3 linked regions of the Homo sapiens genome follow. The protein of the gene in region 2 purifies or fractionates together with the protein of the main gene of each other region. This does not show direct contact. Each region holds a gene or a part of one and is shown on either strand. Other genes may lie near its edges.

What was found.
Region 1: the proteins of ZNF718 (region 2) and LSS purify together in Homo sapiens (affinity purification with mass spectrometry; one large-scale study listed by BioGRID and IntAct). This does not show direct contact.
Region 3: the proteins of ZNF718 (region 2) and OGDHL purify together in Homo sapiens (affinity purification with mass spectrometry; one large-scale study listed by BioGRID and IntAct). This does not show direct contact.

Annotation. Positions count from the first base shown.
Region 1 is NC_000021.9:46,208,171-46,211,817, forward strand, and holds part of LSS (lanosterol synthase), read right to left. Parts: intron 2,575-3,647; coding exon 2,518-2,574; intron 1,456-2,517; coding exon 1,384-1,455; intron 132-1,383; coding exon 81-131; intron 1-80. UniProt on the Homo sapiens protein: Key enzyme in the cholesterol biosynthesis pathway. Catalyzes the cyclization of (S)-2,3 oxidosqualene to lanosterol, a reaction that forms the sterol nucleus.
Region 2 is NC_000004.12:130,968-134,614, forward strand, and holds part of ZNF718 (zinc finger protein 718), read left to right. Parts: intron 1-442; coding exon 443-538; intron 539-3,647. UniProt on the Homo sapiens protein: May be involved in transcriptional regulation.
Region 3 is NC_000010.11:49,748,767-49,752,413, reverse strand, and holds part of OGDHL (2-oxoglutarate dehydrogenase-like, mitochondrial), read left to right. Parts: intron 1-165; coding exon 166-281; intron 282-432; coding exon 433-587; intron 588-1,428; coding exon 1,429-1,575; intron 1,576-2,597; coding exon 2,598-2,688; intron 2,689-3,647.

The sequences.
Region 1 (3,647 bases), on a different chromosome or scaffold from region 2:
CCTTCAGAGGGAAGGACCCACCCTGCTGAGGGCGGCCTCCCCTGGGGGACGGGACAGGGATGGGGCTGGCTCCCGCATACCTTGCGCATCTGGCGGTAGTACTTCTGGTAGTCGGGAGGGTTATCTGGGACCTGGGCAGCATCGAGGGCAAATGTGGAAGCAGAGAACACGTCACCACGGGACGTCCCCATCTGGGACATCGCTGAGACAGACTGGGCAGGACTGGAGAGGCAGAACGTGCCTGGGAGCTTACTCTGCCGGCCACAGCCACCACTGGTGCTGCGAGGCGCGCGAGGGCCTGCACCTGTTTAGCTCACCACCCACAGCTGCTGGGAAACGTGACTGGCCAGCGAGGGCTCAAACCAGCCCAGACGGGACTGGGAGTCAGCACCTGACTCCCCTGTGATCTCCCCACCGGCCAGAAGGCAGGGAGGGGGCCCAGGTCTCTGCGGGTGTGCTCTGTGCCAGGCGCCCCCAATGCCTCCTGAACAACCTCAGCTTCTGGCTGCCTCTCTCACCTCAGTGAGAAGGGAAGAGGCCTGGAGTGCCGTAGGGTTCAGTCAGCCTCCCCAAGTCCCCATCACCCAGAGCAAGTCCTGGGCAGGAGGCAGGAGCAGGAGCAGGCCACCATTGGGCCAGGCACAGCAGGACAATGCCCCTCCTCTGCTTGAGCCCAAGATGGGTGCCAGCCTTGGCCACACAGAGGCCAGGAAGACCCAGAAGCCCTGCAGAACAATGTCCTAGTGAGAGCTGAAGGGAGGGAGACGGGGCTGGGGGGCAGCGGTTCCAGGCAGAGGGACACTGGCTGAGGCCGTGGCCGGGACAGGGTGTGGGAGACACGGGAGGTTGGGGCGCATGTATGGGATGACTGTGGCTGCAGACTGGGGTGCAGGCACGTGTGAGAGACACTGAGGTCAAACTATGGGCTCGGGCAGGGTCTGTGGGCAGCTGATCTGGCAGGAGGGACCGGGGCTTTTGCTGCAAACAGTCTCAGGAGGGCAAGTCCACAGGCTGGCGTCACCTCCATGGGCAGAAGGTGCTTCAGAGACATGGAGGTGCCGTGTAGGCTGTGCAGCTCAGGGTACACAGCCCCTGCCCGTGCCTGGCCCTTGCACACAGTGGCTCCAACATGAGCAGGACGCAGAAACTGCCAGCACCCCCAGCACCCTGCAGGCCTCAGAGAGCTGCCCCAGGTGAGGCCAGCCCGAGGAGGACCGGTGGATGGAGCAGGGGCTAGGGAGGGGATGGGAGGGTGGGGGTGACCTGAAACACCAGTGCAGGAAATAGGGCAGGGTGGAGGTGAGGTGGGCACTTCTGCCTGCAGGAGCTCCCAGCCCTGATCCCCCTCTTCAGCCCCCTCAGAGCCCCAGGCACCGGCCTCACCTGTGAGAGCCTCAGGAACTCATGAGCCTTCTGCAGGCAGGACGAAAACTCGGGCCTGTGGTGCCCGCCCGCCTGGAAGAGACAGCAGGACAGAGAGGCTCAGCTGCCCTTGCACGGCCAGCATGGCTGCGCTGGTTTCCCGATGGTCCTGGCCACATCCTGCCCCAACCGGGGACCAGAATCAAACCAGCAGACATCTCCAGAGAGTGCCAGGGTCTCCTGCTGCACTTACCTTTAAAGACAAAACAGCAAAAGTCCATGAGATATGACTGAAGATGGAAGGGCGCAGGAGACCATTTATGGATGCCAGCACCCCCCTGCCTGGCCAGCATCCATGCCCAGAGGGTCTCCAGCACCCTGTGTAGGCAGGCCCTTTGCGTGGCCCAGCCCTCAGGGCTCTCCAGAAACACCTTCAGAATCCCACCTACCTCATTCCCACCGGCATAAAAATCCACTCTCGTTTTTCTCCAGTACTGGCTCGAGAATGCCCATAACAAACAGTTCCAGTTCTTTTTTTTTTTTTTTTTTTTTGAGACGGAGCCTCTCTCTGTCACCCAGGCTGGAGTGCAGTGGCACAATCTCGGCTCGCTGCACCCTCCACTTCCCGGGTTCAAGCAATTCTCTGCCTCAGCCTCCCAAGTAGCTGGGATTACAGGTGCCCGCCACCACGCTTGGCTAATTTTTGTGTACTTTTAGTAGAGACGGGGTTTCACCATCTTGGCCAGGCTGGTCTTGAACTCCTGACCTCGTGATCCACCCTCCTCGGCCTCCCAAAGTGCTGGGATTACAGGTGTGAGCCACCGTGCCTGGCCCAAGCAGTTCCAGTTCTAAGAAGAGCCTGGAGTCCCACTCCTGCCTGCACTCTCAGAAACAGCCTTCACCAGACTCCCCTTCTCACACAGCCTCCAGCCCCTGCCCTCCCAAGGCCCCCGACCCAGCCCAACACCCAAGGCTGCTGGCCAAGGCCGCCCCCTCCACAGCACGACCCTCTGAAGCCAGAGGCCAGAGCCCAGGTCACTGGAAGTATCGAGGAGTGGCAAGTGTGTGGCCAGCAGTGCTGCCCTCAGGTGGATGCGTGGGCTCACGTGCACAGGAAGGTCAGCTGAGGCTGAGAAAAGAGAAGGAGCCACGAACCTCAAGCAGAGCCTGGATGGCGAATGCGGTGTCCCAGATCTGTGAGCCGTTGGTGCCCTACACACAAAGGATGGTGTTACAGCAGCAGATGCAGCCCCTCCCACTCCCAGCCACTGCCTCCAGGATCCAATGGGCGCCTGAGGGCCAGGTGTGGGGGCTCCCACCCAGCCAACGCTCAGCCTCAGGCTCTGAGCCCTGGGCACCCCTCATGGCTGACAAGGGCCTCAGAGAAGGCTGAGCCCTGCAGGCAGACACACGTCGGGGAGACTCAGGGAGCCCTCCCTTTCTTCATGGGCCACCAGGCAGGACAGTGTCCCTCTGAGGACACTTCTAGGACTGGACGATCCCTTAGAGGCTCCAGCACCTACACATAGAGCATCCAGCTGCTCTCACCCAATGACAGTGGCGCACCTCAGTCATGGTGATGCCTGGAAATGACCCCATTTCTTTTTTTTTTGAGATGAAGTCTCGCTCTGTTGCCCAGGCTGGAGTGCAGTGGCGTGATCTCAGCTCGCTGCAAGCTCCGCCTCCTGGGTTCACGCCATTCTCCTGCCTCAGCCTCCGGAGTAGCTGGGATTACAGGCTCCTGCCAGCACACCCAGCTAATTTTTTTTGTATTTTTTAGTAGCATCGGGGTTTCACCATGTTAGCCAGGATGGTCTCTATCTCCTGACCTTGTGATCCGCCCACCTTGGCCTCCCAAAGTGTAGGGATTACAGGCGTGAGCCACCGCACCTGGCCAATGATCCCCATTTCTGAGTACACCTGGAGGTGATGGGAATTCTGCACAGGGCTGGGAAGGCTCCACCTCAAATCTCACCCCGAGCTGGGCTCACAGGTACACAGCCTGGTCTCAGTTCAAAGGGCCGGTGACCAAACCCTAGTGAGACAGAGCTGGGCACTGACCAGACAGACATGGGGACTGGGCAGGGGGTGGTGTGTGGCAGAGGCATCCAGACATCGTGCACTGGAGGGACAAGGCAGGGACCACCAGAAAAGCATTCTCGCCAAAGAAACACAATGGGATCGAGCCTCAGGGCCTGGCCAGTTTACAAAAACTCAGGGAACATAAGAAGCAACCAGTCAGATCTGCAATGTGAAGCCCTTCAGGAACAAACCTTCCAGGAGGA
Region 2 (3,647 bases):
TTCCTTTGTAGAATGTCTCTTGAGAGCTTCTGCTTTGCATGAATTAATTTCAGTTCCTTCACGAAAAAGTTGGGAGTTTGGTGGTATAAAAAATAAAATCTTTAGGATGTTTCATCTTTACATAAACCTTCTTTTGAGCTAATTTGTTTCCTTCGCTCTAGGCTAGTGGTAATTCTAGAAATTAATGATATAAAATAATTGTCTTTCACATCTTAACATGCAATTTGCACTACTTATTTTTGATTCAGTAGTACTCGGTAGTGGAACTTAAAGCCCACAGATTTAAAATACTTAAATATTCTACAGATTCTGTCGGAAAACAATTTTTGGATTAATTTTCTAGAATCTTCCCTAATTTCTCTATTCTACTTAGCATAGTACTAGGTTGGTAATTGGAGTATCCCCAGCAATAGTCATGTTAATTTTTTTTTTAATAAAACAGGTGTTAGTATCTCTAACCCAGACCTGGTCACCAGTCTGGAGCAAAGAAAAGAGCCCTACAATTTGAAGATACATGAAACAGCAGCCAGACCCCCAGGTAGGTGAGAGTGAATGGAGGAGAGGACACAGACAAGGAGGCCAAAAGTCAAGAAGGAAGCCAGGCCTTCAAATGTTGTTTGAGAGGCTGAGCACCGTGGCTCACGCCTGTAATCCCAGCACTTTGGGAGGCCGAGGTGGGTGGATCACCTGAGATCAGGAGTTCAAGACCAGCCTAGCCAACATAGTGAAACCCCGTCTCTACTAAAAATACAAAAATTAGCCGGGTGTGGTGGCGGGCGCCTGTAATCCCAGCTACTTGGGAGGCTGAGGCAGAGAGAATTGCTTAAAAACACAGGAGGCGGCCGAGGCGGGTGGATCATGAGGTCAGGAGATCGAGACCATCCTATCTAACATGGTGAAACTCCATCTCTACTAAAAATACAAAAAATTAGCCGGGTGTGGTGGCGGGCGCCTGTAGTCCCAGCTACTCAGGAGGCTGAGGCAGGAGAATGGCGTGAACCCAGGAGTCGGAGCTTGCAGTGAGCCGAGATCGTGCCACTGCACTCCAGCCTGAGCGACAGAGCGAGACTCCGTCTCAAAAAAAAAAAAAACCCAGGAGGCAGAGGTTGCGGTCGGCTGAGATCGTGCCACTGCACTCCAGCCTGGGCGACAGAGCGAGATTCAGTCTCAAAAAAAAAAAAAAAAACCCAGGAGGCAGAGGTTGTGATTGCGCCACTGCACTCCCTCCTGGGCAATATAGAGCTAGACTCTGTCTCAAATAAATAAATAAATGTAGTTTGGGAAGCTCTGTGACAAAGAAAATAATTTCTGAAAAGGCTGCATTTTTTCTCTTAGGGTCATCTTCTCTCCCATGCTCTTAAATCTAAGAATTCTGTTTTTCCTTTAGTGATCTCCCTTCAAGTTTACAGGGAGTGCCAGTGTCCACTTTATCACTTACAAAGGGCTACATGATCTGACTGCTGTTCATTGCTTTTGGGGACCTGGGAACATTTGTATTATTGAGGAGCTCTATGTTAAAGTTTTTCTTTTTTTCAAATATTGTCTTTGCATCATGTCTAAAATGTGTACGGTGACTAGTGGATATATTGGGATTTGGTTCAGAGATCCCAGGAACACCAGAGACAGTTGTTGCAGGTATTGCATCTTTTCTGCTTAGTGATTTTTAATCCTATAGAGGTTGCAAATGTAATTCTACAAAAATTCTTACTCAGCAATTTTATCAGAACAATAAGTGTTTTCCTAAATATGAAAAAATGTAATTTTATTTTACTTCAAAATGTTATTGTTTTAATATAAACTGAGATTTGTAATTTAAACTCTATTTTTGCAAGTTTTCAAATTATTTAAAGCATGGGTTTCCAACCTTTTGGCTTCCTTGGACCACATTGGAGGAAAAATTGTCTTGGCCACACATAAAATACAGTAACGTGGCCGGACACGGTGGCTCACACCTGTAATCCCAGCACTTTGGGAGACCGAGGGGGCAGATCATGAGGTCAGGAGTTAGAGACCAGCCTGGCAAGCATGGTGAAACCCCATCTCTACTAAAAATACAAAAATTAGCCTGGCATGGTTGTGCGCACCTGTAATCCCAGCTACTTGGGAGGCTGAGGTAGGAGAATTGCTTGACCCCAGGAGGTGGAGTTTGCAGTGAGCTGAGATCGTGCCACAGGCACTCCAGCCTGGGCAACACAGCAAGACTCCATCTTAAAAAAAAAAAAAAAAAAATATATATATATATATATATATATATATATATATGGTAACACTAATAATAGCTGATGAGTTTAAAAAAAAAAAGGTTTGTGAATAATTTTTGTGATATCCACTACCACAGATAAGTAAAAATGCCCTCACATTCAAAGGGTTGGCCACCACTGATTTAAGGTATCTACTCACCTTCTAGATTTCTTAAATGCACTGTCATCAACCAGCTTAGAACATTGCTAAGTGTATAGTAAGCTCTCAATTATTACCTTATTTCTTAATAACTATTATCTTTTAATTTTGTCTTATTTAGTAGGAAGCCTACTGAAGTTCTGTTGAGATCTATCTATATATAAAAATGTGTGTCTCACACACATACACATACCTATATAAGTTATATATGTGTATAATAAATTCTTACTTAACTTTGCTGATAGGTTCTTGGAAACAGTAAGTGAAGCAACATATTAAGTAAACTAATTTTTACCAGAATTTAATACAAGAGTTATGTTTGCATGACATATAGCAACAATGTTCATTTAAAGATGCACTTTTCATGAACCTATTTTGAACATAAAGTGAGGACTTACTGTACATACATGTGCAACCTGGATTTTTCTGATAAATAAAAATTGTATAATGTGTACAGTATAATGATTTGATATGTATATACATTGTAAAATAAAATATAGTCAAGTTAGTGAACACATCTATTACCTCAGGTAGATAACCAGTTTTTTTGTAGTAAGAACACTTAAGGTCTACTGTTGTAGCAAATTGTAAGCATACATTACAGTATTACTAACTATAAATAATGCTATTTTGCTGATCTAATGCTGAATGTACTTTAGATTTTTCAGAGTTACTCAAGTTACAACTAAAAATTTGTACTCTTTGAACAACATTTCCGTATTTTCCACCCTCAGGCACTAACAATCACCATCAATCAATGTTAAAGTTTTTTTGTTTTGTTTTGTTTTGTTTTGTTTTTGAGATGGAGTCTCGCTGTCACCCAGGCTGGAGTGCAGTGGCGCGATATCTACTCACTGCAAGGTCTGCCTCCCGGGTTCACACCATTCTCCTGCCTCAGCCTCCCAAGTAGCTGGGACTACAGGTGCCCGCCACCACGCCCGGCTAATTTTTTGTATTTTTAGTAGAGATGGGGTTTCACCATGTTAGCCAGGATGGTCTCTATCTGACCTCGTGATCTGCCCACCTCGGCCTCCCAAAGTGCTGGGGATTACAGGCGTGAGCCACCGTGCCCAGCCAATCAGTGTTAAAGTTGTTTAAGGTTACACTTAAGTTTCAAAATTGTGTTTTCTATTACTGTGAAAAATGACACTAAAATTTTCACTTTGAATATATAGATCACTTATGATAATACGGTACTTTGACAGTATTAGTTATTCTAATGGAATATTTTTCCATTTATTTGTGTC
Region 3 (3,647 bases), on a different chromosome or scaffold from region 2:
CACCCTGCCTCCCTGGGCTCACTCTCACTTCTGCTCCCCAGGTTGGACCCAGAGGGAGGGCACTGGGGAGACTGGGAGGTCTGGTGAGACTGCGGGGCTCCACCTGGGCCTGACCTCCCTCCCTCCACTTTGCTGCCCGGGGCTCGGCCACGCCTCCTTCTCCAGCCTTCTATGACCTTCAGGAGGCTGACCTTGATAAGGAGTTCCAGCTGCCGACAACCACCTTCATTGGGGGCTCTGAAAACACCCTCTCTCTGCGGGAGATCATTCGGCGCCTGGAGGTGAGCACAGGCGGGTGTGTGGGGTGCAGCTGAAGCAGCTCTTTGGAGCTTGCCAGAGGACGGGAAGGCACTGTCTTTTTTGTTCTAGACAGCAGGGATGTCAGCCGTCCCTCTTCCCCGCTCCTCATGGGGTCCCAATGTGTCTCCCCAGAACACCTACTGCCAGCACATTGGCCTGGAGTTCATGTTCATCAACGATGTGGAGCAGTGCCAGTGGATCCGGCAGAAGTTTGAGACCCCTGGTGTGATGCAGTTCTCCAGCGAGGAGAAGCGGACCCTGCTGGCCCGGCTAGTGCGCTCCATGAGGTTGGCACCACCTGGAGGGCCAAGTGGCTGGAGGTCCTGCTCCAGGGCTCTATGAGACGTCCCACACCCTGCCTAAGAGAGCAGGAGGGTACCACAGGAAGGCAGGACTGGATCGGCCTCACCACTGGCTGCAGGGAGGAGAGTTGGGACCAGGTGTTTAGGCAGTTTGGCCAAGAGCTGGCCCAAGGCAGAGCAGGTCAGGTGGGCAGGGATGAGGCTCTAGGAGAACAAGAGAGCGGGGACACTGAGCAAGGCCAGAAGTGGCGGGAAGTGGCTGTGGGAACATTTGGGCAGAAAATTATCCCTGGTGTGGAGTGACTGTGGCCACACCACCTGTCTGTTCACTGGACTTTTCTGAAGCTGGGTCCCCCAGGGCTGCAGGGGCTGGGGGAGCACCTGACTCAGCTGCTGGATGCAAAGTGGATTCCTGAGCAGCGAGGTGTGGGCTGGAGTTTGGATCTGGCTGGGTGGAGATCTTTGGGACTTGGCGAAGAGAGCCCTTGAGTGTGGCAGGAGGGTAGTGGGCTAGGAGTGGGTGGGCAGTGGCCTGTTGGAGGAGCTTGGCTATGAGGAAGAGAGAGGGCGGCAGCTGGGAAGGGGTGTAGGCAGAGGCGTTTGGTTCAGCTGGGAAGATGCCTAGCCTCCCCTAACCCTGTGTTCCTTTGCTGGGTGGGACAGGTGTATCCATGGTGGGCCCTGGACCATGTAGGTGGAAGGAGGATTTGTGACTTCCTCTGTCCTCAGCATTCAGCTCTGAGCACTCATGAACAGCCCCTGTGAGCCCCAGTCCCCTCCCTCTCCATCCCTTTCCCTTTCCTCTTCCCATCCTCTCCCCAAGCAGGTTTGAAGACTTCCTGGCCCGGAAATGGTCCTCAGAGAAGCGGTTTGGCCTGGAGGGCTGTGAAGTGATGATTCCTGCCCTCAAGACCATCATCGACAAATCCAGCGAGATGGGGATTGAGAATGTCATCTTGGGGATGCCACACAGGTGGGTCCCCCTCCCTGCTGTGCCTTGCGCATTCTCCTCCAGCCCAGGGGACAGAGGTGGGAGAGATGAGATGGAAATCAGAGCGGAGGTGTTGGTGGGACCTGGGGGTAGAGGTGGGTTTCCTGGAAAGTTCTGAGTCCTGGGCCTGGCCTGCTCGTCACAGAAATTGCCGGGTACTTGGCCAGAGTCACCTGGGGCCGGGTGCTAACCAGGTTATCAGGCACCCTCTCTCCCTGGCCATGTTGCCTCTGTCCCTAGCAAGGGTGAGATTTCAGAAAGCGGTACACTATACTTCTTGAGGTTCCTGTGGACAAGGAGAGGTGGAGGGATTTCTTCCAGGGAAGGGAGGGCAGGGCCTGGGCAGTTGTTCCCGGGTTGTGTCCCCAACAGGGAGGTCTGTGGAGGTGAGCCGAGGGTCTCTGACCTGGCTGCAAGCTGACTGCGTGTTCCCTTGACCTTGATGAAGATCTAGGAGGCTTGCTCAGCAGTGGGGCGTTACCTCTGAGCTGGAGCCTGTGGGGAAGCAGGAGGGGGAATGCACCCTGGGGGACAGAGACGTCTGTGGCCAGGGGTCCTGCTGAGTGGGCATGTGCAGATGTGCAGAGTGGCCTGTGGGAAGGGCCCTGGGCTTTTCCCGTGACCAGAGAGCTGCTTGTGGTTGGACTAGCCCAGGGCTACATCAGCATGAGGGCATCCAAATGCATGGTGCAGGGGTCCCCATTCGTGGCTGGCCTGCCAGGACTTTGGGGTTTGTCTGTCATGGGGGGCCTGGGAATGCCCAGTGTCTGGTCAGAGAGTTAGGCAGAGCTGGCCCAGTGGCCTGAGGCAGCAAGAAAGCATGGGGCTTTAAGCCTCGGGCCATTACAGCAGCAGGAGAGGATGGTGCCTGGTGATTGGGTGGCCTGAGGAGGGCTCTGGGCACGAAGGGGCTGTATTAGGCCAGGCCAGGCCTCCACAGTGGGGGAGGGAACCCTGAGGCCTGCGGGCTTTGCCAGGTGAGAGCCCGGCCCCTCTGGCTCCAGGGGAAGGCTGAACGTGCTGGCCAACGTGATCCGCAAGGACCTGGAGCAGATCTTCTGCCAGTTTGACCCCAAGCTGGAGGCGGCGGACGAGGTGGGTGCCATGCCCAGGTCCCGGCACCCTTGGAGAGCTGGGTGTTTGGGAGGTGGACTGTGGAGGGGCTGAGCCGGGAGCTTCCGGGCTGAGATAAACCTTAAGATGGATGCATTGGAGAAGCCTGCAGGAGAGAGGCTGGGTGTTTGCCTGAGGACCCTAAGGCTTTTTGGAGCAAGGGCTGCAGTCTCTGGTAGCTGGGAGGGCCCTCAGATAATCTGGGTCAACCTCCCTGTTTTGAGCTAGGGAAACTGAAGCCCAAAGATGCAAAGGCTTGCTGGAAGTTGCTCAGTTCTGCTCATGTGGCTGTGCCTCCATGTCCAAAGTCCTGTCCACCAGCCAGGAATGACTCCCTTGCTCATTTGTTTGCCCAGCAGAGCCTTGGGAGGTGAGGATGGTTTTCCGTACCCATCGACCTGCTGAGGAAATGTTGTTCCTGCTCCCACCCCCTCCCTGGGAGGCCTGGGCCAGGCCTTCAGCCCATACTGCCTAGCCTCTTTCTTTCCTTTTCTTTTTGAGATGGGGTTTTGCTCTTGTTGCCCAGGCTGGAGTGCAATGGCATGATCTTGGCTCACTGCAACCTCTGCCTCCTGGGTTCAAGCGATTCTCCTGCCTCAACCTTCCAAGCAGCTGGGATTACAGGCATGCGCCACCACGCCCGGCTAATTTTTGTATTTTTAGTAGAGATGGGGTTTTGCCATGTTGGTCAGGCTGGTCTTGAACTCCTGGCCTCAGGTGATCTGCCTGCCTCGGCCTCCCAAAGTGCTGGGATTACAGGCATGGAGCCACCGCTTCCGGCCACTGCCTAGCCTCTTTCAAAGTCCTGCCCATCTTCCCTTTCGGTGGCTCTCTGGGTCCCCTGGGCAGTGAGCCTGTCACTCCCTCCTCTGTGTCCCTTTGCCCTCAGGACTATCTCTCCTGCTGTCTCCAGCCTGCTGCCGTGTGTGTGTGTGTGTGTG